Linked DNA regions of Homo sapiens: all the other regions are linked to region 2. Evidence: fine-mapped expression QTL. A gene starts in region 2. Each other region holds a variant in brackets. All regions are shown on one strand. Distances are from middle to middle. Region 1 overlaps RIT1 (Ras like without CAAX 1). Region 2 holds the start of THBS3 (thrombospondin 3). Region 3 overlaps DAP3 (death associated protein 3).

Evidence for each region. PIP is the estimated chance that this variant, and not a neighbour inherited with it, causes the effect.
Region 1: its variant is fine-mapped to the expression of THBS3 in whole blood (INTERVAL, PIP above 0.99).
Region 3: its variant is fine-mapped to the expression of THBS3 in whole blood (TOPMed, PIP above 0.99).

The regions. Positions count from the first base shown.
Region 1 is chr1:155,891,911-155,899,910 of GRCh38, reverse strand. RIT1 (Ras like without CAAX 1) reads left to right here. Exons shown (of 6, transcript NM_006912.6): 6 at 1-2,103. It also overlaps the pseudogene LOC124904686. Among named protein-coding and RNA genes, the nearest start is that of RIT1, 15 kb to the left of the region's middle. The variant C/T (reference allele first, on the strand shown) is at 4,401.
Region 2 is chr1:155,203,138-155,211,137 of GRCh38, reverse strand. It overlaps THBS3 (thrombospondin 3), which reads left to right and starts at 3,241. Exons shown (of 23, transcript NM_007112.5): 1 at 3,241-3,340; 2 at 4,732-4,938; 3 at 5,822-6,078; 4 at 6,181-6,283; 5 at 7,599-7,625; 6 at 7,833-7,915. The coding sequence starts at 3,262. It overlaps MTX1 (metaxin 1), which reads right to left and starts at 2,443. Exons shown (of 8, transcript NM_002455.5): 1 at 1,806-2,443; 2 at 723-792; 3 at 511-590. The coding sequence starts at 2,333. It overlaps THBS3-AS1 (THBS3 antisense RNA 1), which reads right to left. Exons shown (of 6, transcript NR_183238.1): 6 at 5,649-6,103. RefSeq lists a silencer at 1,894-2,093 and an enhancer at 3,457-4,240.
Region 3 is chr1:155,704,136-155,713,136 of GRCh38, reverse strand. It overlaps DAP3 (death associated protein 3), which reads right to left. Exons shown (of 13, transcript NM_004632.4): 2 at 3,313-3,364. The coding sequence starts at 3,357. Among named protein-coding and RNA genes, the nearest start is that of DAP3, 20 kb to the right of the region's middle. The variant G/A (reference allele first, on the strand shown) is at 4,190.

The DNA of each region.
Region 1 (8,000 bases), 690 kb before region 2:
CAAATTTCAGCAGATACCTGTGAGGCTGACACCTGTTGCAGACTATGGAGTGGTGAGATTTGGGAAAGTTGGGCTATATGTTTGCAGGGACTTAAAAAGGTAGGTTCAGAACAGTATTCTCAGTACAAGCTTCGCTTTTCTAAGAAGTACACATTTGGCCCAAATTCACCGGGATAAGTGAGAACAGCCAGAAGCATAAAATGTGATGAAGGTTTCTCCTGGGAACCTTATTTTACTCTTCATTTCAGGGTTTTCTTTTTTTTTTTACCTTCAAAGGTAGACATTTTGGGAATCATAACTGTATTACTAAACGTGTTTAATCAAAATTCATAGTTGGATCAGCCATTGCCTTGTACAGGTTTATTTTTTCCCCACAGACGCACACACCAACACATTTATATTCATTGCTTCCTCCCACTTTGTGCTCTGTAAAAGAGCTACAGCTGGCAAGATGTTTTTTCGGCCCTTCATCACTGATTGCATTTTCCATACAGAAGAGACATCAGGGGTGTGGGTAAAATTGTGTGTGTGCCTCCTTGACGTGGACAATCACTAGACTCAGTGCTCTGAGAAAATCTGCTATTTCTGTTGAATGGGTCAGTCTTAAAGCTTTAAAATTCACATAGGTGGAGTTTCCCATCTGAAGATTTCTTTACAAGGACTTTGCTAAGTTCATCTCAGGGTTATCTGAGCCTTGACCAAGTTTATCCTAAGGGAATACCACTTTGCTCCCTGTGCATAGTTTAGGAACTGTAGTCCTAGGAGGAAACAGCTTTAAATATTGGTAGTGAGTTGTCTAAGATCAGGACTGTTTTGATATCTGACCTTGTTATATGCGGAGAGTAAATGCAAAAATGCTAAGAGTAATGCATCATGTATTGAATATTAAGTGTCACTGAAGCAATGTTTGTGTTGACTAGAAACGTAAGATGACTTGTGTAGCACCTCTTTATAAGCACACAGCTCATCTTAATATTTTCCATTTTTATTAGAGGAAGTAGGACAGAGTTGTGTTTTTCTTTATAAACAAATGATAAACTAGCTTTTTTAAAAAGTGACTGTTAGAACTTTTTTAGCTCTGAGTAGTGGTCCCTTTTTAAACTCCTGGAAACATTTTTGTTACCAAATAAATCATGTTTTATGGTACTCAGCCATCCAAAAGTGAAAGACCTAGCATTTGATTCTGTGCAGGACACAAATCTCACAGGAACTATAGCACTTTGGAAAAGCATCAAAGTAGAAAAGAAATACAGTGCAATTCTATTATGAGAATGTTTTACATTTAAACTGGTTTAGCACCTTTTAAGTTTAAAGCCCATAGCTTCTTATTACTAGTGACCTAGGGAATTGTTATTAACATTAAGAGATATATATATATATATATATATATATTTTTTTTTTTTTTTTTTTTTTTTTTTAAATAGAGATGAGGTTTCACTATGTTGCCCAGGCTGATCTCGAACTCCTAGGCTCAAGCAATCCTCCCAATATGCTGGGATTACAGGCATGAGCCACCACCTGGCCCAAGCAAGAAATTGACACTATATAGTTATTTAAGGTAGTCAGGCAGTAGAAACATTGCCAGAAGGATAGAAAGGAATTTGGATTATATATAAGGAAAATAACAAATCGGTGTTTTTAAGACTATCACTGTCATATATTAGATCCTTGTATTAGTCCATCCATTAATATTAGTTCTATTCGTGGTGCTAGGTAGCTTGACAGGTATGATATGCATAAGTCATAGCTCTATTCTTAGTGTCATAAAGTGTAGCTAATTTATAAGCTCTAAGTAATCAGCTTTATCTAATTTGAGGGCATTAAAATTACTGCCTAGAACTTTGAGAAGAGAAAAATTCAGGGATAAGTTGAAAGGCACTGGAACTGTTCATGTCCATACCAGACCGGTAAATTATAAGATCCAGATGTTAGTGTCTAGAATTAGCTGTTTAGAATTCAGAGGGGACATATGTTTTAACTTTGTCATATATTAGCAAGAATTGGTCTACTGTGATGTTTGGGGAGGAGGAGGGGGGGATAATTTTTTTAATGCACTTGTATGTGAAGACAGTTTGTATGACATAATACAAAACTTTTAAACAACTTGGGCTTTCCTTTGCTTCCCTATCAGTGGGTAGAGTTTTTGGAATCATTGCAAAAGAGTTGTTTTCAGAAAAACATAACCATGAGATGTGATATTCTGGAAAATATGAATTCAAAAAATTTGAGTGCCCACCATGAACAAGACACCCATGTCAAGTGCTAGGGAGCATGCCATGGAATCCCCCTTCATTTGAAGAGATTACCTCTTGGGAGGAGACAGGAAAAACACATATGGAAAATGACAGCACATTTGCTACCTGATCAAGGGTTACTTAAAGTTGTTATAAGTAAATACACTAAATGAAAAGTGAAAGAATGATTTTTTTTTTTTTTTTTTTTTTGAGACAGAATCTCGCTCTGTCGCCCAGGCTGGAGTACAGTGGCGCGATTTCGGCTCACGGCAAGCTCCGCCTCCTGGGTTCACGCCATTCTCCTGCCTCAACCTCCCAAGTAGCTGGGACTACAGGCGCCCGCCACCACACCTGGCTAATTTTTTGTATTTTTTAGTAGAGATGGGGTTTCACCATGTTAGCCAGGATGGTGTTGATCTCCTGACCTTGTGATCCACCCGCCTCAGCCTCCCAAAGTGCTGGGATTACAGGTGTGAGCCACCGCACCCAGCCAAGAATGATAACTTTTTACCTGAAGGTCATTTAATCTCCATTACTGTAAATGGCCACCAGTGTTGGTAGAGAGGACCTAATTTGAACGTTAAACAAATGGATTTTTTTGTTTTGAGACAGAGTCTTACTCTTATCACTCAGGCTGGAGTGCAGTGGTGTGATCTGGGCTCACTGCAGCCCCTGCCCCCCAGGTTCAAGTGATTCTCCCATCTCAGCCTCCTGAGTAGCTGGGATTACAGGTGCGCACTACCACGACCAGGTAATTTTTGTATTTTTATTAGAGATGGTTTTGCCATGTTGGCCAGGTTGGTCTCAAACTCCTGACCTCAAGTGATCCACCCTCCTCGGCCTCCCAAAGTGCTGGGATTATAGGTGTGAGTCACTGTATCTCGCCTGTCTTTGGTTTAAAAAAGACAGTCTCCGTCTGCTAGGCTGGAGTGCGGTGGTGTGATCATGGCTCACTGTAACCTTGAACTCCTGGGTTTAAGTGAAAGATCCTCCTGCGTCAGCCTCTTCAGTAGCTGGGACTACGGGCACATGCCACCATGCCGTGCCAAATTTTTACATATTTTGTAGAGGCGGGTCTCAAACTCCTGGCCTCAAGCAATCCTCCTGCCTCAGCCTTCCAAAGTGCTGGGATTACAGGCTTGAGCCACCTCACCTGGCCCAAGAGTGGATTTTTATGTCCTCATTATTATTTAAGTTTTTTTTTTTTTTTGAAACAGTCTCACTCTGTCGCCCAGGCTGGAGTGCAGGGACACCATCTCAGCTCAGTGCAGCCTCTGCCTCCCGGGTTCAAGTGATCTTTGTGCCTCAGCCTCCCAAGTAGCTGGGATTACAAGCATGTGCTACCACGCCTGGCTAATTTTTTGTATATTTAGTACAGACAGGGTTTCACCATGTTGGCCAGGCTGGTCTCAAACTCCTGGCCTCAAGTGATCTGCCCGCCTTGGCCTCCAAAGTGCTGGGATTGCAGGTGTGAGCACTGCACCCTGCCTATTTAACATTTTTGAATGGTCAGTAACTGTCAGTGTCCACTAGAAACAGGTACTGGAGGAGTGGCATTCCATTTTTCTTTCCGTCTCTTTTTTTTTTTTTTCTTCACTTGATTTAAAAAATCATTCCCCTGGTCGGGCACAGTGGCTCATGCCTGTAATCCCAGTACTTTGAGAGGCCAAGACAGGTGGATCACGAGGTCAGGAGTTCAAGACCAGCCTGGCCAAGATGGTGAAACCCTGTCTCTACTAAAGATACAAAAATTAGCTGGGCGTGGTGGTGGGCGCCTGTAATCCCAGCTACTCGGGAGGCTGAGGCAGAGAATTGGAATTGCTTGAACCCGGGAGGCAGAGGTTGTGGTGAGCTGAGATTGCGCCATTGCACTCCAGCCTGGGCAACAGAGCAAGACTCTATCTCAAAAAAAAAAAAAAATTGTTCCCCTCTTTGATTAAATTACTCATACTTAATGGCATTCCATTTTCTAATGTAACCTCTGTTAGAATAAGTAATGGAATTTCAGGTGAAGTATTTATAAGCCTCTTCCATGTATTAAGCACTGTTTTAAAGAGCTGTGAAGGATTCAGAGGAATATAGAATACGGGCTGGCATAGTGGCTCATGACTGTAATCCTAGCACTTTGGGAGGTGGAGGTAGGCAGTTTGCCTGAGCTTAGGAATT[C/T]GAGACCAGGCTGAGAAACATGGTGAGACCCCATCTCTACTGAAATACAAAACAAAAAAAAAATTAGCTGGGTGTGGTGGCCCACACCTGTAATCCCAGCTACTCTGGAGGCTGAGGCACAAGAATCACTTGAACCCAGGGGGCGGAGGTTACAGTGAGCCAGGATCGTGTCACTGCACTCCAGCCTGGGCAACAGTGAGACTCTGTATTTAAAAAAAAAAAAGTGTATATATATATTTTTTTTGTACATGTATATTGTATATATATATACACCAAAAATATATATATGTTATTCCTGCTCTGGAGCTTAGATAAAATTTATATATGTAGCCAGGTGCGGTGGCTCACGCCTGTAATCCCAGCACTTTGGGAGGCTGAGGTAGGTGGATCACGAGGTCAGGAGATCGAGACCATCCTGGCTAACATGGTGAAACCCATCTCTACTAAAAATACAAAAAAAATAGCCAGGCGCGGTGGCGGGCGCCTGTAGTCCCAGCTACTCGGGAGGCTGAGGCAGGAGAATGGTGTGAACCTGGGAGGCAGAGCTTGCTGTGAGCTGAGATCATGCCACTGCACTCCAGCCTGGGCAACAGAGCAAGACTCCGTCTCAAAAAAATAAATAAAATTTGTATATATAAAACAGCTAGAGGTCAGTCTTAAAGTAATAAGTCATATGCTTCAAACTGGAAATGTTATAGGAATTCAAAAAGGAAGGAATTAGTAAATGTAGTAGACTCCTAATAAGTCATTGGTAGTGTTATGCCTTTTCCAAACTCGTACAGAAATTTGAAATCTTGCCAGGCACGGTGGCTCATGCCTGTAATCCCATCACTTTGGGAGGCTGAGGCAGATGGATCACTTATGGTCAGGAGTTCAAGACCAGCCTGGCCAACATGGCGAAACCCTGTCTCTACTAAAAATACAAAATTAGCTGGGTGTGGTGGCATGCGCCTGTAATCCCAGTTACTTGGGAGGCTGAGGCAGGAGAATTGCTTGAACCCGGGAGGCAGAGGTTGCGGTGAGCCAAGATCGTGCCACTGCCCTCCAGCCTGGGCGACAGCAAGACTCCATCTCAAAAAAAAAAAAAAATTTTTTTTCAATCAACTTTTGTTTTTTAAGTTCAGTCTCCATAGAGATTGTCAAAAATTGCCAATGCCAGGGTATTGGGAAAAGTTTTCAATTAGCAATAATCATGCCTCATTGGCTATAATCCTGTCACTGTACAAAGCTGTCCAATCAACTTTTAAACATATGCCAGGCACAGGGCTCACGCCTGTAATCCCAGCAATTTGGAAGGCTGAGGTGGACAGATCACAAGGTCAGGGATTCAAGATCAGCCTGACCAACATGGTGAAACCCCATCTCTACTAAAAATACAACAAAAATTAGCCAGGCATGGTGGTACGCGCCTGTAATCCCAGTTACTCGGGAGGCTGAGGCAGGAGAATCACTTGAACCCGGGAGGTGGAGGTTGCAGCGAGCCAAGATTGCGCCACAGCACTCCAGCTTGTACGACAGAGCGAGACTCCATCTCAAAAACAAACAAACAAACAAAAAACCATGAGTTGGCCTTGAGACAAAACTACTGAAATGTTTTAGCTTTATCTAATAATGTTTGCTTAAAAAAAAACTCATGATGAGCAGCTTTTGGTTCAGTGCATACATTCCACAGCACACGTGATCATATCATGAAGTCACTCAGTTTTTTGAACAAAAGCTGCTGCAGTGGGGACATGTGTCATTTCCTGCCCTTCCTGGAGCTAGTTATTGCCAGAGTTTATTGCAGTTTTCTCTGAGCCAGAAGAAAAACTTTAGCTCCAAAACATCTCCCACAAAATGCTTTCCCTAGTTTCCTGGCAGAGGAGTGTGCAGGTGAGGGGGCAGAGGCAGAGAAATGTATGGCTTTTATGAGGATGGGTCCAAGTGCTCAATACACTGCAATCCAACATAAAATCTCTGCTGCCCAGGAAGGCATGTACATCAATCTAGTCAGCCAGAGAATTAAATTGTGCATTCCCACCCAAAACATTCTGGACACTCTTATTTTCATGTCCTTAGACTCCCGAAGAGAAATACATGGGTCTAGTTGCAACTAACACACACCTACCACCATCATCAAAAAACACAAAACCAAAACCGATCATTATACCAAACTTCTTTTGAAACTCCAACTCAGAATAAGTAGGAAGAAGAGACAGCCTTTTCAGGTTTGCTTTAAGTCTGCTTCCCAGACAATATTTTGTTCCCTGCCTGCCTGCCTTTCTTGGGTATCCGCTGCATGCCAAGCAATGTGTTGGCATTGGGAATTCAACAGTGAATTTAAAAAAAAGCTCACAGTTCTTAGAGTCTCAGTTCTTTTCAGTGGGCACCTCTAATTCTAACGTGCAAAATCTGACACAGATTTGGATTGAATGGTGGGAGAATGAGAAGGAGTAAGGGACACATAGCAATTTCAACTGCTTGGTAAACAATAACTAAATGTTAACTTGGAAAAAAGCCTGAGAAGAAGCTGATTTGATGTGAGTGAATGTAAATCATGAAAATATCCAGTTTCATCCGGGTGTGGTGGCTCATGCCTGTAAACTCAGCACTTTGGAATGCTGAAGTGGTACGGTCACTTGAAGCCAGAAGTTCAAGACTAGCATAGGCAACATAGCAAGACCCCCATCTCTACAAAAATTTAAAAACTAGCTGGGTGTGCTGGTGTGTGCCTGTAGTCCCAGCTACTTGAGAGGCTGAGGTGGAAGGATTGCTTGAGCCCAGAAGGTGGATGCTGCAATGAGCTATGATTGTGCCGCTGTACACCTGCCTGGGTGACAGTGTGAGACCCTGTCTCAATAGATAGATAGATGATTGATTGATAAATAGATAGATAGATAGATAGACAGACAGACAGATAGCTACATAGGCTGGGCGTGGTGGCTCACGCCTGTAATCCCAGCACTTTGGGAGGCCGAGGCAAGAGGATTGCTTGAGCACAGGAGTTCCAACCAGCCTGTCTCCACAGAAAATTTTTTTAAGTTAGCCAGGTGTGGTAGCACGTGTGTCGTGGTGGTGCATGCCTGTGATGCCAGCTACTCAGCTACTTGGGAGGGTGAGGTGTGAGGATTAACCAAGCCCAGGAGGCTAAGGCTGCAGTGAACCATGTCACTGCACTCCGGACTGGGCAACAGAGCAAGACCCTGTCTCAAAATGTAAATAAGAAGAAAGAAAATGAGTTTTTCTCCTTATGGCCCTGTCAGAGGCTTTCAATTAGATTGAGATTTAATGTACTGTCTGGGCATGGTGGCTCATGCCTGTAATCCCAACACTTTGGGAGGCTGAGGTGGGCGGATCACCTGAGGTCAGGAGTTCGAGACTAGCCTGGCCAACACGGTGAAACCCCGCCTCTACTAAAAATACAAAAATTAGCTGGGTGTGGTGGCACATGCCTGTAATCCCAGCTACTCGGGAGGCTGAGACAGGAGAATTGCTTGAACCTGGGAGGCAGCGGTTGCAGTGAGCTGAGATCAGGCCATTGCAATCCGGCCTGGGTGGCAGAGCAGGACTCTGTCTCAAAAAAAAAAAGTAGTATTTGAGGTGAACTAACCAGCTCCCCAG
Region 2 (8,000 bases):
GGCCCAGCCCTCTAGTTTTACAAATAAGGGAGTGCACAGCCCTGAGAGGTTACATGGCCTGCCCGAGATCACATAGTCAATGGCAGAGTAAAGAGCATAGCCTAGGCCTCCCCACTCCTCTAGTAATGCTCTTTCATCTTCTCCAACCTGGCTCTAAGCCTTGTCCATCCTGAGCCCCATATCTAGCCCAACCTAGTCCCTGAAAACAGGAAGTGGCCCTTAGAAATCTCTCTCCAGTCCCACCATCAGAGGCCAACTGCTGTCTTCCACTCTCCTTCAGCCTGTGCTCCTCTCCCTCCCTGCCTCACAGTGCCCTAAGTTTCATCTCTTGCCGACTGCTTTAATACATCACAGTGACATTGTGTGTGTCTCTGCCACAAGACTGTTGCTCCTTGATGCTCTGGGTCACCTGCATCTAGCATGGCATATATCTGGTGCTCAATAAATGTGTATTGTATAGAATTGACTGAACTTCTCTCACTGGCAGCCCCCTCTATCCAAGTCACCTACCTCTTTTCGAAGGTGGGTGATGATCTTGTGTGGAACTGAGATGACCTCTCCATGACTGGTCCGAAGGGCAGGCAGAGTTCCTGATATTGAGAGGGAAGTATACCAACCAGACCCTTAGCTGCCTAGTCATACATAGTTGCAACACATTCCTGCCTATTTCTTGCTTCTCCCCTTGTACACACCCTTCCTTACCCCCAAGGGATACTGGGTACCTGAAGGGCTCTGCCAGGGGTTGCTGATCTTGTGTACCTTCAGTGGAGCACCAGTAAATCTGGCATAGGTCTGCAGGGAAGGAAGCAGAAGTCAGAGAGGCAGAGCCATGTCCCCCACAGTGGTATCAAGAAGAGAAATAACATTTATTGAATACCTTATGTGCCATTCCCTATACTTAGTATCTTAGTCTCGAAAAAAAAGGGGGAGTCACTACCATTTCTATTTTACAAATGGACAACACAGGGCTCAGAGAGATTCCGGACATGTCTGTGATTACAGGACAGCCAGGAAAATCCTTTCCTCTATCTCCTCTCTTGCCATCTACCTGGTGAACATCTATCCTCAGAAGCTTTTCCTAACCAGTATCCCTCTTCTTGGAAGCACTGATAATGCCCTTCTCTTTGGCAGTATCTGTGGTCTGTTCCTACTTTAACTTATATGTGAATATTTTATTATATTTATTTGCTTACCTATCTGCCTTTCTGTAAACTCGAAGGGAGGAACCAAATTTTATTCATCTTTGCCTGGCAATGTTTAATATTTGGAAGAAATCTAATAGATCCTCTTTAAAGCAAGGAGTCAATGAATAAATGAAGCAAAGGAAGTCTGATTGCTAAGCTCTTTATACAAAGCCTGGCTGTGAGTCGTTTGGTCTAACAAACAATAGCCTCAGTAAATGCTGTTAAGTGAGGAGGAAGAGGAGAAGGGGGCTGAGGAGAAGGCAGGAATTCCAAGCTAGAGTAGGTCCCTGAGACAGTCCAGCCTAGTAAACCTCCGAATGGAGAAAAAAAATGCCCAAAGAGAAAGGATCTCCGCAAGGTCACACAGCCAGTGAATGGATGAGCAAGGACTAGAACCCATCACCTGAACTCCCAACCAGGCGTCTTTTCATTGCTGCATTAAGCCTAGAAAACTACAGCATAGGGCACTGAGGCCATATCGGCCACGTACGCTCTTTGACTGCCTCAGTTTCCCCCACTGCGCCCGTGCTGAGTAGCCCTGGCAAGGTTTGGATGCTTGGCTAGTTCGGCCCCCTCCCCAGTCATCAGGGCACAGCAGAGGGCGCCGGCGCCACCCCTCACCAGCACGGCCAGGCTGTCCAGGTCCACTGACGGCAGCCCCCAGCCCCCTGACCAGCAGAACAGCTCCATGGGCGCCGCCATCTTGCCCACCCTCTGTCCCGGAAACACTTCCTTGTGTGCTTCTGCCCTCCCCTGCCTGGGCCCGCCCCCCGCCACCGCCCCTCCGATCGTTGCGGTCAGGGGGCCTGGGGAGATCCCCGGGGAGGCGAGGCTTCTTCTGGCCCGACTGGCAGCTGAACTGCGGGGGACTGGGCCGCGGGCCTCGGGGGAGGGCGGCCGCCGGCCCATCCAGAGGTGGCCCACGTAGCGGGACAGCGCTGTCGGCCCGGCGCGCCTCGGAGAGTCACGGCGCCTCGTCCAAGTGGAGCCCCGAACCCCTGAAGGCGCGGCAGGCTCTGGAGAGCGGGGTCTTGTGCGCCTGGGCCAGGTCTGGGGGCTCTTGCCAAACTGCACGTGGCCTGTACTGCTCCAGGGCCCCTTGGGGCTCGTCCCCGAGCGGGGACTGCGGGGGGGTCCCCCGAGCAGCATGTTTTCCACAGCGCGTTATGTTTGGAGCGGGCCCTGCGCCGCCTGTCGCCATGGAAACAAAACAGGGGCGGTGGCGGCGGCCGGAGCGGAGGCCGGGCTGGGGCTTGGGTGGGGGAGGGGAAGAGAGGCTCGCAGGCTGTCGCTTAGGTGACGGGAACTCAGGCGCCCCTCTGCTTCATCCGGGTCACGGCCCGTCCGCTAGTACCCACAGTGTTCCACAGTCTGGTCCTTGGCTCCTCGCCTGTACCCCTGGTCTTCTGCGCCTGTCCCTGGTGTCCCTTTCCTCTTTTTTGGTTTCTTCACTCTGACCTCACTGACCACTGCTTTAGATTCTCCCTTCAGTTCCCGTCAGACGCTTCCAGACTCCCAAGCTTTCCTACGAATGAGGGAAAATGGAGAAACAGGCACTTGTCAGGGGACCCCCCACCCTAATAAAGAGCACTTGCTCCGCCAGAACAGCAAAATTCATGCCATGTGGGCATCCCTGGGCACTATAGCAAGCTAGTTGCGGCCACTCCCTTGGCATCCTTTCCTGCCAGCTGTGGAATAATGCCCACTGTCTAGCACTGCCCCTGCCAGGGGTTCTTGCCTTCCACAATCGTGGCTTCCAGAAAACAGTGGCATTCGGTAGCGCTGTGTGCCGAGACCCCCAACAATGATGACTGCGGAGAGGGAGGCACCTGGGGGAGGATCATTAGGGAGAGGTAGAAAGCAGGGAGGCCTCCAGGATTCTTTCCCAGTGCCCCTGGTTCCCAGAGCTGATGATGCCTCCAGGGTGATTGGCAGCTCTTTGTTTCAGCCCCCCCTCACCCGCCTGCTGGCCCCCCCTCCAATTCTGTCCCTCCGCCCCCCGGCTCCTGCTCTCTCCGCCTAGCCTTTTCCCCTCCCAGCTGCCTGCCTGCCAGGGGTAGTGAGCCGGCTGAGAGGCATGGAGACGCAGGAACTTCGGGGGGCCCTGGCTCTTCTCCTCCTTTGCTTTTTCACATCTGCCAGTCAGGATCTGCAGGGTAAGCCTGTCTCCATCCTCTTAGACCGCTCTCTGCTTCTTCCCCATTTGCCCTCAGCCCAAGTAGCAGAGAACATGTGGGCAAGGGGAGAGGGGAAGAGTCCAGAAATTGAGCCAGAGGAAAACTTAAGACTGCCTAGAGTTGGTGAAATTATGGCCTGGTGGAGAGGAGTGGGCACCGGAGAGTAGTGGGGGAGCTGGAACAGGACAGGGTCAGGCATGAGGCCAGGGCAGAGGACTCAGGAACTGGATGCTCAGGCTGCCTGGCTGGGGTGGTTCCTGAGCATCTGTAGGCACCCTAGGGTCTGGGAGAGCAGCCTGAAGGTGGGCGTACTGTAGGTCCCTGGGCTTCGTCCCCCTGGGCTCCTGGCTGCCCAAGGACAGGGCGGGGGTGGGGACCAAGAAGCCTGGGCTCTCCCGGAGGTCTGGTGGTGGGATGGGCCGATGGATGTGGGAGAGGTAGCTGGAGCAGATGACACAGGCATAGATTCTTTACTGGCTGGAGGGAAAACCACAGATTGGCCAGGACACAGGAGGCAGAGGAGCTGGGTCCTACATTCCCGTGGGAGATAGCCCAGATGGTGGGAGGGTTAGAGTCCTCAGTGGGCAGCTGTTCTTATCCAGAGCGAGTGTGCTGCGCCCCTAGGATGGGAGGAGGGGAACTAGGGTGTGGAACGAGCCAAACCCAGGAGTGGAAAGAGAAGCTGCCTTCCATTTCTACGTTGTGGACACCAGGTGCCACTCCTGTGGGGGATCAGCACAGCATCTCCTTTGCGCCACCTGGTGGGGGCATCTCAAATTTGTGGGGTGCTGTTTCTGTGTTTCCAAGTGAGTCTCAAACCTGCAGGTTCCTGGAAGGTAGTAATAGGCAATAATGGGGAAAGGAAGGCACAGTGCCTCTGTCCTCTGAGAGCAACAAGGGTTGAGGTTTTTTTTTGTTTTCGTTTTGTCTTTTTGAGATGGAGTTTCACTCTTGTTGCCCAGGCTGGAGTGCAATGGCGCGATCTCGGCTCACTGCAACCTCCACCTCTCAGGTTCAAGCGAGTCTCCTGCCTCAGCCTCCTGAGTAGCTGGGATTACAGGTGCCCGCCACCACGCCCGGCTAGGTGGTTTTTTTTTCTTTTTTGTTGTTGTTTTTGTATTTTTAGTAGACACGGGGTTTCACCGTGTTGGCCAGGCTGGTCTCGAACTCCTGACCTTAGGCGATCCACCTGCCTCAACCTCCCAAGGTGTTGGGATTACAGGTGCGAGCCACCATGCCCAGCCAAGGGTTGAATTTTGAGGTGACTAACGCTGCCTGGTGGTGGGGGTAGGGGGTGATGTGGGCTCGGGGGAGGGCATACCTTAGCATTTGATCCCATTCTCTAACCTTGATAACCCCTGCCTGACCAGTAATTGACCTGCTGACTGTGGGCGAGTCTCGGCAGATGGTAGCTGTGGCAGAGAAGATCCGGACAGCCTTGCTCACTGCTGGGGACATCTACCTCTTATCCACCTTCCGCCTGCCCCCCAAGCAGGGTGGTGTCCTCTTTGGCCTCTATTCTCGCCAAGACAACACTCGATGGCTGGAGGCCTCTGTTGTAGGCAAGATCAACAAAGGTGACTGGTGGGCATCTCCTTTCTTGCAATGGTGACCTCCTTAAGCACTCTCCCTCATCCCTACTTCCCAAGTGCTTCCTCATTCTCCTTGGCCTCCACTAGGGACCAAGGTCCCATCAGGCTGTGCCCAGACATCAGGGGCACCTGGTATGGGGTGCTTATAAGGTGCTTTAGGAGCCCATGTACCAAACAATAGGGTGAGGCTTGAGTCCTGATATTTATAGGGATGGGAGGTTGTACTTGGGGATGCCTGGAAGGAGGGTGAGGCATGTCTCTGTGCCTCAGCGGTGATACAGAAAGGTCTTTCAGATCCCTGGAACAGGTCAGTGGCCACAAAACCAGCTGTCACCCTAGGAGAGGATACAGTCATCTGATACCAATGAAGACTAAGAAAGTATTTGTCTCTAAACCAATTATTTTTTTAAATGGAGTCTTGCTTTGTCACCTAGGCTGGAGTGCAGTGGTACAATCTCAGCTCACTGCAACCTCTGCCTCCTGGGTTCAAGCAATTCTCCTATCTCAGCCTCCTGAGTAGCTGGGACTACAGGTGCCCACCACCATGCCTGGCTAACTTTTGTATTTTTAGTAGAAACAGGGTTTCGCCATGTTGACCAGGCTGTTCTCGAACTTCTGACCTCAAGTGATCTGCCCACCTTGGCCTTCTAAAGTGCTGGGATTACAGGTGTGAGCCACCGTGCCTGGCCTCTAAAGCAATTTCAAAAACATTTATTGTGTACCTATTAAATACAAGGTGTTGAGAGCCACATAGTAGAATTAGGGATAGGGGCCCTAGAGATGTGGTATCTAGCAGAGTTGATCCAAGGCTCAGCTGGGAGGCAGGGGGTGGGGGATAGCGCCCATACTGATCTCCCCTCCTGGGCAGTACTGGTGCGATACCAGCGGGAGGATGGCAAAGTCCACGCCGTGAACCTACAGCAAGCGGGCCTGGCTGATGGGCGCACACACACAGTTCTCCTGCGACTCCGAGGTCCCTCCAGACCCAGCCCTGCCCTACATCTCTACGTGGACTGCAAACTGGGTGACCAACATGCAGGCCTTCCAGCACTGGCCCCCATTCCTCCAGCGGAGGTCGATGGGCTGGAGATTAGGACTGGACAGAAGGCGTATTTGAGGATGCAGGTGAGCCGGGAGGAGCCTCTGAGTTCTGTGGAAATAGAGTTTGCACCAGCTGGGGAAGGGGTTGGTAGACCTTCCCACCTTACTCTGCTGCTATCCCCCCAGGGCTTTGTGGAATCTATGAAAATTATTCTGGGTGGGTCCATGGCCCGGGTAGGAGCCCTGAGTGAGTGTCCATTCCAAGGGGACGAGTCCATCCACAGTGCAGGTAACACAGAGACTTGTTTGCTGACATTGGACCACGGATCCTGTGGCCTTTGGTGACTCCTGTCTTCTTGATCTCCCTCTCCCTTAAAACCCATTCCTTTGGCTCACCTGTTCCTAGGGTTTCTAACCCTGTTATTCCAAATCTTTCACCTGACTCCACAATCTCCAATACACCCATCCGAGAAAAAAAGTGATCTAAGAGAAGAATTGGTTAATTGCTTGGCCTTGGCTGACCAAGAGATACTGGTCTCGAGTATTTTTTTTTTTTTTGGTGATGGAGTCTTGTCCTGTTGCCCAGGCCGGAGTGCAGTGGTGCAATCTGGGTCACTGCAGTCTCCACTGAGTTCAAGTGATTCTCCTGCCTCAGCCTCCCAAGCAGCTGGGATTACAGGCGCCCTCCACCATGCCTAGCTAATTTTTGCATTTTTAGTAGAGATGGGATTTCACCACGTTGGCCAGGCTGGTCTCAAACACCTAATCTCAAGTGATGCACCCACCTCGGCCTCTCAAAGTGCTGGGATTACAGGCGTAAGCCACCGCGCCCGGCCTGGTCTCGAGTCTTTTATAGTTCTCACTGGCAGCTGTCACCAGCAATTTCTCTGAGTGTTGCCCATCTGCCTGGTCTCTCTGACAGGGATGTTCAGAAGCTCTCACCTAAATAAAAGACCCACCTTTCCCAGATATTTGAGGGAGAGCTCTTGAAGAAGGGAATGGGATGGCGGGTGTGGTGGCTCACACCTGTAATCCCAGCACTTTGGGAGGCTGAGGTGGGCTGATCCCTCAAGGTCCGGAGTTCAAGACCAGCCTGGCCAACACTGTGAAACCTCCTCTCTACTAAAAAATACAAAAAATTAGCTGGGCATGGTGGTGGGCACCTGTAGTCCCAGCTACTTGGGAGGCGGAGGCAGGAGAGTTGCTTGAACCCAGGAGGTGGAGGTTGTGGTGAGCAGAGATCACGCCACTGCATTCCAGCCTGGGAAACAGAGCAAGACTCCGACTCAAAAAAAAAAAAAATGGGGATATACTGGGGCCCTGGCCCTGCTTTGGGTCCATCCCTTCTGCCACTACCATGCCTAGGAACCAGGAGGATTTGGGTTCTAACTTCCTGTGAAGCAACTCCCTTAGAGGGCCTTTTGCCCCATAGAAGGAGCTGGCACTGCTTGTCTGCCAGCTCTGCCCTCCCAGCATCCAGCACCCCATCTTTATTCTGGGGCTCCAGCCCTGTCCCTGTCCTCACCTTCCTTCCTCCTTCTCACCAACCAGGCCTCTCTTCACTTCACCTCACCCCTCTGACTATGTTTTCTTCTCCTCTCCAGTGACCAATGCACTGCACTCCATTCTAGGTGAGTAGGCCACACTGAAGCGGAAGCGGGGAGCGGGGAGGAGGCCCCAGGCTCTGGCAGCTGCCTGAAACTAAGTCCTCTTCAGTCAGGAATGTAGTAGGTTTAAAGGCAGGGGTGGGCAGCCGTGGCAGGTACTGGCTTATTGCCCATGGAGGGCCCAGGACTGGTGCTCCAGTACTGAACCCCTCACACCCTGGGTCCCGACAGGGGAGCAGACCAAGGCGCTGGTCACCCAACTCACCCTCTTCAACCAGATCCTGGTGGAGCTGCGGGATGATATACGAGACCAGGTTTGGGTGGGCTGGCGAAGGGTGGCACTGATTCTGGGGTAGGGTGGCAGATGTCAAGTGCTGACTCCTCCCCATCCTTCTCCAG
Region 3 (9,001 bases), 500 kb before region 2:
CTATATGTTGCGATGTATCCCAAGAAGGTAAACTTTTGTCCCTCCATCCAGACTTCAGTCTTGCTTGCAAAGCCTTTTTGAAAGACAGGAACAGCAAAAACAAAGCAAAACACATACACACAACACAAACAATATCCTTTGTGTTAGGCCACTGAGAATACAAGGCTTGTTACTTCAGGGTAGCAATCTGAATAACACACCCTAGTACTACTTAAACGCTACTCAATTTTATCTACCGGAGAGAAAGCACCATGCCTCTTTAGCTGGAGAGAAAGCAGAGTGGAAAACAAACTATTCAAGGGTCACAAGGTGGTCCTATTTCTACAGTAATGTGATGACATTTTTGTTACACTTTTTTTTTTGACATAGGGTAGGGTCTTGCTATATTGCCCCGGACAGTCTCAAATTCCTGGGCCCACATGATCCTCCTGCCTCAGCCTCCCAAGTAGCTGAAACTACAGGTACTTTTTGAAGCAAATTAAAAGCTAGCAAAATGGAATCTTTTTTTTTTTTTTTTTTTTTTTGAGACGGAGTTTCACTCTTGTTGCCCAGGCTGGAGTGCAATGGTGTGATCTTGGCTCACTGCAACCTCTGTCTCCCAGGTTCAAGCGATTCTGCTGCCTCAGCCTCCCGAGTAGCTGGGATTACAGGCATGCGCCACCGCGCCTGGCTAATTTTGTATTTTTAGTAGTGACGGAGTTTCTCCATGTTGGTCTGGCTGGTCTCGAACTCCCGACCTCAGGTGATCTGCCTGCCTTGGCCTCCCAAAGTGCTGGGATTACAGGTGTAAGCCACCATGCCTGGCCTACAGCAAAATGGAATCTTTAGTTCTTAAAGTTTTATATATGTTATCACTCAAGTAGACTGTTGTTTCCAGAGAAAACAACCATCTGTACAATTGCCTCTGTACAGTTCCAGAATGAACATCCTGCAGTTTCTGAAAGAGCATTTGTGAGCCAATCTAGAAGATCACCGTGATGGTTAATATTAAGCGTCAACTTGATTGGATTAAAGGCTGTAAAGTATTGTTCCTGGGTGTGTCTGTGAGGGTGTTGCCAAAGGAGATTAACATTTGAGTCAGTGGACTGGGAGACGCAGACCCACCCTCAGTGTGGGTGGACACCATCTAATCACCTGCCAGGGCAGCTAGAATAAAGCAGGCAGAAGAAGGTAGGATGAGCCGACTTGCTGGGTCTTCCAGCCTTCATCTTTCTCCTGAGCTAGATGCTTCCCGCCCTCGAACACTGGACTCCAAGTTCTTCAGCTTTTGGACCCTTGGACTTACAACAGTGATTTGCCAGGGGCTCTCAGGCCTTTAGCCACAGACTGAAGACTGCACTGTCAGCTTCCCTACTTTTGAAGTTTTGGGACTTGGACTGGCTTACTTGCTCCTCAGCTTGCTCACGGCCTACTGTGGGACTTCGCCAGATGGTGTGACTCAATACTCCTTAACAAACTCTCCTTCATATATACTTCTATCCTATTAGTGCTGTCCCTGTAGAGAACCCTGACTAATACAGTCACCCTGAACCAAACTAGTAAAAAAAAAAAAACAAAACTTTCTCTCACCAACAGCACTCTACAGTCTAGCCTCAGGTCTTTGTTGTCTGTTATTAAGAAAGAGGAAATTTTTTTTTTTCTTTTGAGATGGAGTCTCGCTCTATTGCCCAGGCTAGAGTGCAGTGGCGTGATCTTGGCTCACTGCAACCTCTACCTCTTGGGTTCAAGCGATTCTCTTACCTCAGCCTCCCAAGTAGCTGGGATTACAGGCGTGTGCCACCACACGCAGCTAATTTTTGTATTTTTAGTAGAGACGGGGTTTCACTATGTTGGCCAGGCTGGTCTCAAACTGCTGACCTCAGGTGATCTGCCTGCCTCGGCCTCCCAAAGTGCTGGGATTACAGGCATGAGCTACTGTGCCCGGCCGAGAGAGGAAATTTATTTTAGCCTTGTAATATGATCAGTTGAGTCCAGAATCCATCCCTCTGCTGATCCTTGCTTTCGTTTCATTTTATAATAATGGGTTATTTTATGTATTAATATATAGGCCTGAGGGAAGGGGGCACATGCAGGGGGAGCCATATAGGAGGAAGGGCTCCTTTTCTAGGAAATCTAATCTGTAATTAAATAATCAGCTGAAAATGACCAAGTCTTTCTGGCTCAGTTCTGAGCCTTTCAGGATCTCCTGCTGACTCGACTAATCCCGCTCAGGTGCTCCTCTTTGGTGCTGTAAGAGCACCATACTGAAATAGTCATTTTTTCATGATTCTACTGGACTGTAAGCTTCTGGAGAACATGGACCATAAAATGCAATAGAGCACAGTGGTTAGGCCACAGGCTTTGAAGTCAGACAGACCTGGCATCTCGTGTGGGCTTTGCAACCTCACAGGCTATTTCCTCAGGTAAGTTACCTAGCCAGTCTCATCTTTAGTTTCTCCATCTGTGAAACAAGGATATTATCTCGTTCATGGGTTGATCATGAGGATTAAAAAAATAAATCACTTAGTGTAGTACCTGGCACATAATAATACCCAACAAATAATAACTATTATTAGTGAAATGAGGCATCTTAGAATTCTGAGTACCTGCCATATAGAAGGTACTGAAGGCCGGGCACAGTGGCTCACGCCTGTAATCCCAGCACTTTGGGAGGCCTAGGTGGGCAGATCACGAAGTCAGGAGTTCGAGACCAGCCTAGCTAATATGATGAAACACCGTTTCTACTAAAAATACAAAAATTAGCCGGGCATGGTGGCAAGCGCCTGTAGTCCCAGCTATTCGGGAGGCTGAGGCAGAAGAATAGCTTGAACCCAGGAGGCAGAGGTTGCAGTGAGCCGAGATTGCGCCACTGCACACTCCAGCCTGGGCAACAGAGCGAGACTCTGTCTCAAAAAAAAAAAAAAAAAAGTACTGAAAAACTATTTGGTAAATATGTGAAAAAATGAAGTAAACCAGCAGAATGGTCTTTTTCATGTACAATTTTATTTTTTATTCTATTTTAGATGCTAAAGCTGTAAATTGGCAACTTGTTTTTCTTTTAAATACTTCATTAAGGGATGATAACCATTCTCTAGTTGGCTAGAGAAATAAAGTTAATAAAGATAATTACAGTCAAACTTACTTATGTTTTCTGGAAAAATATTAATTCTCCTATTCCATGGTAAATTCTCAAGCACAATTATTCTACTGAAACCTGTTACATATGAAGTTTTCCAGAGCATTTCACTCTAGATACAATGAATCCATCTGAAAACAAGAATCTGGGAACCTAAAGGCAGTATGCACAGAGTGTTCAGGTCAGTCAGGACTCACCTTATGGATCCTAGAGATAAGCCTTGTTATTCCTTTCAGCATCATCCTTGCACTGTTACAAAAAAAAAAAAAGTGAAAAGGTAAACCACAAATGGGAAAAGATGTGTGCAACATGGAAAACTGACAATAGATTAATAGGGATTAATAATCTATATTAATATCTAGAATATATAAAGAATGCCTACAGCTTCATTAAAAAAATGAGCAAAAGGCATGAACAGGCATTTCACAGAAAACGAAACACAAAAGGCTAGTGAACCCATGAAAAGATTTTTGAACCTCATTACAAATCAGGGAAATGCTAATTAAAATGATGAAAACCAGATACCATTCACAATCATCATACTGGGAAAATAAAAAAGTCAGGCGGGACACAGTGGCTCACATGTACAATCCCCACACTTTGGGAGGAACACTTCTCGGGGCTGAGGTGGGTGGATTGCTTGAGCCCAGGAGTTCAAGACTGGCCTCAGCAACAAAGTGAGACCCTGTCTTTACAAAAAATATAAAAATTAGCAGGGCATGGTAGTGCATGCCTGTAGTCCCAGCTCCTCGGAAGGCCGAGGCAGGAGGATCACTTGAGCTTGGGAGGAGGTGGAGGTCACAGTGAGCTGAGATGCACTACATTCCAGCATGGATGACAGAGTGAGACCACCTCAAAAAAAAAAAAGAAAATAGGCCAGGTGTAATGGCTCATACCTGTAATCCCAGCACTTTGGGAGGTCAAGGTGGGCAGATCACTTGAGGTCAGGAATTCGAGACCAGCCTGGCCAACATGGTAAAACTTCATCTCTACCAAAAAATATTTTAAAAAATTAGTCGGAGGCCACGCGCAGTGGCTCACGCCTGTAATCCCAGCACTTTGGGAGGCCGAGGC[G/A]GGCAGATCACGAGGTCAGATCGAGACGGTCCTGGCTAACACGGTGAAAACCCGTCTCTACTAAAAATGCAAAAAAATAGCTAGGTGTGGTGGTGGGCGCCTGTAGTCCCAGCTACTTGGGAGGCTGAGGCAGGAGAATGGCATGAAACTGGGAGGCGGAGCTTACAGTGAGCTGAGATCATGCCACTGCACTCCAGCCTGGGCGACAGAGCAAGACTGTGTCTCAAAAAAAAAAAAAAAAAAAAATTAGTCAGGAGTGGTGATATGCACCTGTAGTCCCAGCTACTCTGGAGGCTAAGGCAGGAGGATTGCTTGCATCCAGAGGTTGCAGTGAGCTGATATCACACCACTGTACGCTAGCCCAGGTGACAGAGTGAGACTCTGTCTCAAAAAAAAAAAAAAAAAAACAAAAACAGAAAAAGAAAATTAAAAAGTCAGACAATAGCAAATGTTAAATAGGCTGCGAAACATTACATTGTATTCAACTTTCATACATGTCAATGAAAGTATAAATACACTATCTTTGCAAAGTTGAAAATGCACAAAACAAAGTTGAAAATACACTATCTTTGCAAAGTTGAAAATGTACAAACAAAAAGTTGAAAGTGTGGTGGCTCAAGCCTGTAATCCCAGTACTTTGGGAGGCCAAGGCAGGTGGATCACCTGAGGTCAGGAGTTCAAGAGCAGCCTGGCCAACATGGTGAAACCCAATCTCTACTAAAAATACAAAAAATTAGCTGGGCGTGGTGGTACACACCGGTAATCCCAGCTACTCGGGAGGCAGAGGCAGGAGGATTCCTTGAACCTGGGAGGCAGAGGTTGCAGTGAGCCGAGATCGTGCCATTGCATTCCAGACTGGGCAACAAGAGTGAAACTCTGTCTCAAAACAAAAACCAAAACCAAAACTTCTACATGTACACTGGGAAATATATATAAGGAGGTTCATACTAGCAGAGTATGAATTATAAAAAAACTGTAGAAAAAACTAATGTCCCTTAGTAGAACAGTAGATAGAGACAGTCATAAAATGGAATATTAGAAAGCAATTAAATGAAAAAATTACCATTGCATGCATCAACATGGATCTCAAAAATGAATACTGAGTGAACGCTATTACATCTGGCATGACATAACATATAAAATTCAAAACCAAAAAGCTTCATTAATTATTTGGGGGATATAAATAGGAAAACTGAAACAAAAAAGCAAGAGAATGATAAAAACAACATTTAGAATAATGGTTACTCCTGGGGAGAAGAAAAGGGAAGAAGATTGGGGCAGGGCACACAAGGAAACTGATAATAAACTAACACTGGATAATGGATACATGAGAATTTATTATTTTCATATCATGTGTATTATATTCATTTTTTTGTATACAGGAAATATCTAATTTAAAAGCCCGAATCTTTTGGAGCTAAGAGGTTTAAAATACTTAAATGTAACTCTCAATATCCAGTAGTTATGGAATAACTGAATTAAATGTCTATGTAATTAATTAGTTCATTTTGGCTATAAATTTTTTTTTTTTTTTTGAGACGGAGTCTTGCTCTGTCACCCAGGCTGGAGTGCAGTGGCGCGATCTTGGCTCACTGCAAGCTCCGCCTCCCGGGTTCACGCCATTCTCCTGCCTCAGCCTCCCGAGTAGCTGGGACTACAGGCGCCCACCACCACGCCCCGCTAATTTTTTGTATTTTTAGTAATGACGGGGTTTCACCATGTTAGCCAGGATGGTCTCGATCTCCTGACCTTGTGATCCTCCCGCCTCAGCCTCCCAAAGTGCTGGGATTACAGGCGTGAGCCACCGCGCCTGGCCTATTATAAATTTTTTTTGTTTGTTTTGTTTTGGTTTTTTTGAGATGGAGTTTCGCTCTTGTTGCCCAGGCTGGAGTGCAATGGCATGATCCCGGCTCACTGCAACCTCCACCTCCCGGGTTAAAGCGATTCTCCTCTCAGCCTCCTGAGTAACTGAAGTTAGAGATGCCAGCTACCACGCCCAGCTAATTTTTGTATTTTTAGTAGAGACAGGGTTTCACCATGTTGGCCAGGCTGGTCTCGAACTCCTGACCTCAGGTGATCCACCTGCCTAGGCCTCTCAAAGCGCTGGGATTACAGGTGTGAATTACCACACCCGGCCCCCTTGGCTATCATTTTCACCTTTCTTTATTTTATTTTATTTATTTATTTATTTATTTATTTTGCGATGAAGTCTTGCTCTGTCACCCAAGCTGGAGTTCACTGGAACCTTGCCTCCCCGGGCTCAAGCGATTCTCCTGCCTCAGCTGCCTAAATAGCTGGGACTACAGGCATACACCACCATGTCCAGCTAATTTTTGTACTTGTAGTAGAAACGGGGTTTCACCATGTTGGCCAGGCTGGTCTTGAACTCCTGACCTCAGGTGATCCTCCCACCTCAGCCTCCCAAAGGGATTACAGGCGTGAGCCACCGCACCCAGACACACCTTTCACAACCCAAATCTTTAAAGCAACAATAATAACAACCATAGAGTTGCAACCAATTAACCCAACAGTTACTGAGCACCTACTGTGTGTCAGGCTCTGTGAATGGAATGGTGAACAAACTATTATAGTCCCTGATCTTATAGTCAAGGAATTTATAGTACAGTCAAGAGAATCACATAGGCTGGGCATGGTGACTCATGCCTGTAATATCGGCCCTTTGGGAGGCGGGGATGAGAAGACTGCTTGAGCCCAGGAGTTTGAGACCAGCTTGGGTACATAGTAAGACCGCCAATTCCACAAACAAAAGAAAAAAATTAATTAGTTTGCCAGGGTGGTGCAGGACTGTAGTCGTAGCTACTTAGGAGGCTGAGGCAAAAGGCTCACTTGAGGCCAGGTGTTAAAGAGCTATGATCATGCCACTGTACTCCAGCCTGCATGATACACTCAGATCTGGTCTAAATAAATAGATAAATAAATGAAAAGAGGCCAGGTGCAGTGGTTCATACCTGTGATCCTAGTATTTTGGGAGGCCGAGATGGATGGACTGCCTGAGCTCAGGAGTTCAAGACCAGCCTGGACAATATGGTGAAACCCTATCTCTACTAAAATATAAAAAATAAGCCTGGCATGGTGGTGCATGTCTGTTTTCCCAGCTACTCAGGAGGCTGAGGCGGGAGAATCGCTTGAACCCAGGAGGCAGAGGTTGCAGTGAGCTGAGATTGCGCCATTGCATGCCAGCCTGGGTGACAGAGCAAGACTCCATCTCAAAAAATAAATAAATAAATAAATAATATTTAAAAATAAATAAAAAGAGAGAGAGAATAACATAAATTCCTTTCATTTTATTTCCTTTCTGTTTTTTTTTTCTTTCTTTTTTTTTTTGAGACAGGGTCTCGCTCCATTGCCCAGGATGGGGTGCAATGGCAAGATCACAGCACACTGTAGCCTCAAACTCTTGGGTTCAAGTGATCCGCCTGCCTCAGCCTTTCAAGTAGCTGGGAATATAGGTGCCATTGCCTGGCATATTAAAAAAAAAATTTTTTTTTTTTTGGGTAGACATAACCCTTGCTATGGTGCCCAGGATGGTCTTGAACTCCTGGGCTCAAGTGATCCTCCTGCCTCAGCCTCCCAAAGTGCTGGGATTACAGGTGTGAGCCACCATGCTCTGCTTCAACTTTATCACATTTGTTATTTTTCTTGAGACAGGGTCTTGCTCTGTCATCCAAGCTGGAATACAGTGGCACAATCACAGCTCACTGCAGCCTCGAACTCCCCTGCTTAAGTGATCTTCCCACCTCAGCCTCCCAAGTAGCTGGAATTACAGGCACGTGCCACTGTGCCTGGCTTTTTTATTTTGTAGAGACAGAGTCTCATTATGTTGCCAGCGATGGTCTTGAACTCCTGGACTCAAGTGATCCTCCCACCTCAGCCTCTCGAAGTGCTGGGATTACAGGTATGAGCCATCGCACTTGGCCTTAAATATACTGGATTCGTTTGTTTATTTCTGAGATGGAATATTGCTCTGTCGCCCAGGCTGGAGTGCAGTGGCATGATCTCGGCTCACTGCAACATCCACTTCCCGAGTTCAAACAGTTCTCCTGCCTCAGCCTCCCAAGTACCTGGGACTACAGGCGCCCGCCACCACGCCAGCTTATTTTTGTATTTTTAGTAGATACAGGGTTTCGCCATGTTGGCTAGGCTGTTCTCAAAATTTTGACCTTAAGTGATCCTCCCGCCTCAGCCCCCCAAAGTATTGGGATTACAAGCATAAGCCACCTGCCCAGCCATACTATTTAATGAAGACGCCAAAGCACTCCTAAACTCAGTCATTCAAGAAGCATATGACATGCTTCCACACGCCCACACTACACAGAGTCTATAGTGGTGAATAAGACTGGGATGGTCTCTACTGGCCTGCCTGCCTTTTCACTTGTGGGATTTCAGGGCTCCTTTTCTAGAGTGCAATGTCACTCCAATAGTATTTGACCTGCCCCACTGTGCTCCCCAGATCTTCTCAATGCTCCCCGGCACAACCACTACTGGAAGAGCTGTGGACTAGGAAGCAGGCTGGGTACTGGAGAGGAAGGAGTGTGTGACATGGTCCAGATGCACTTCTTTCCATAGGCGTGCCTGTGGACACTGGAGCTATTATTTTGCCTATGTTATAGACACTATGAGAAATGACGGTCAGAACGTGTAATCAGCTTCCGTTCTAGGACACTATCATCTTGAACCCAAATTAAAATAAATGATCTACCAGCATCCAGACTTAAACATTTTCTCCACTGAAGCCTTGCTTAAAATTCTTCAGTATTTCCTCACTACTTGATTATTTTGTGAGATCGGGTC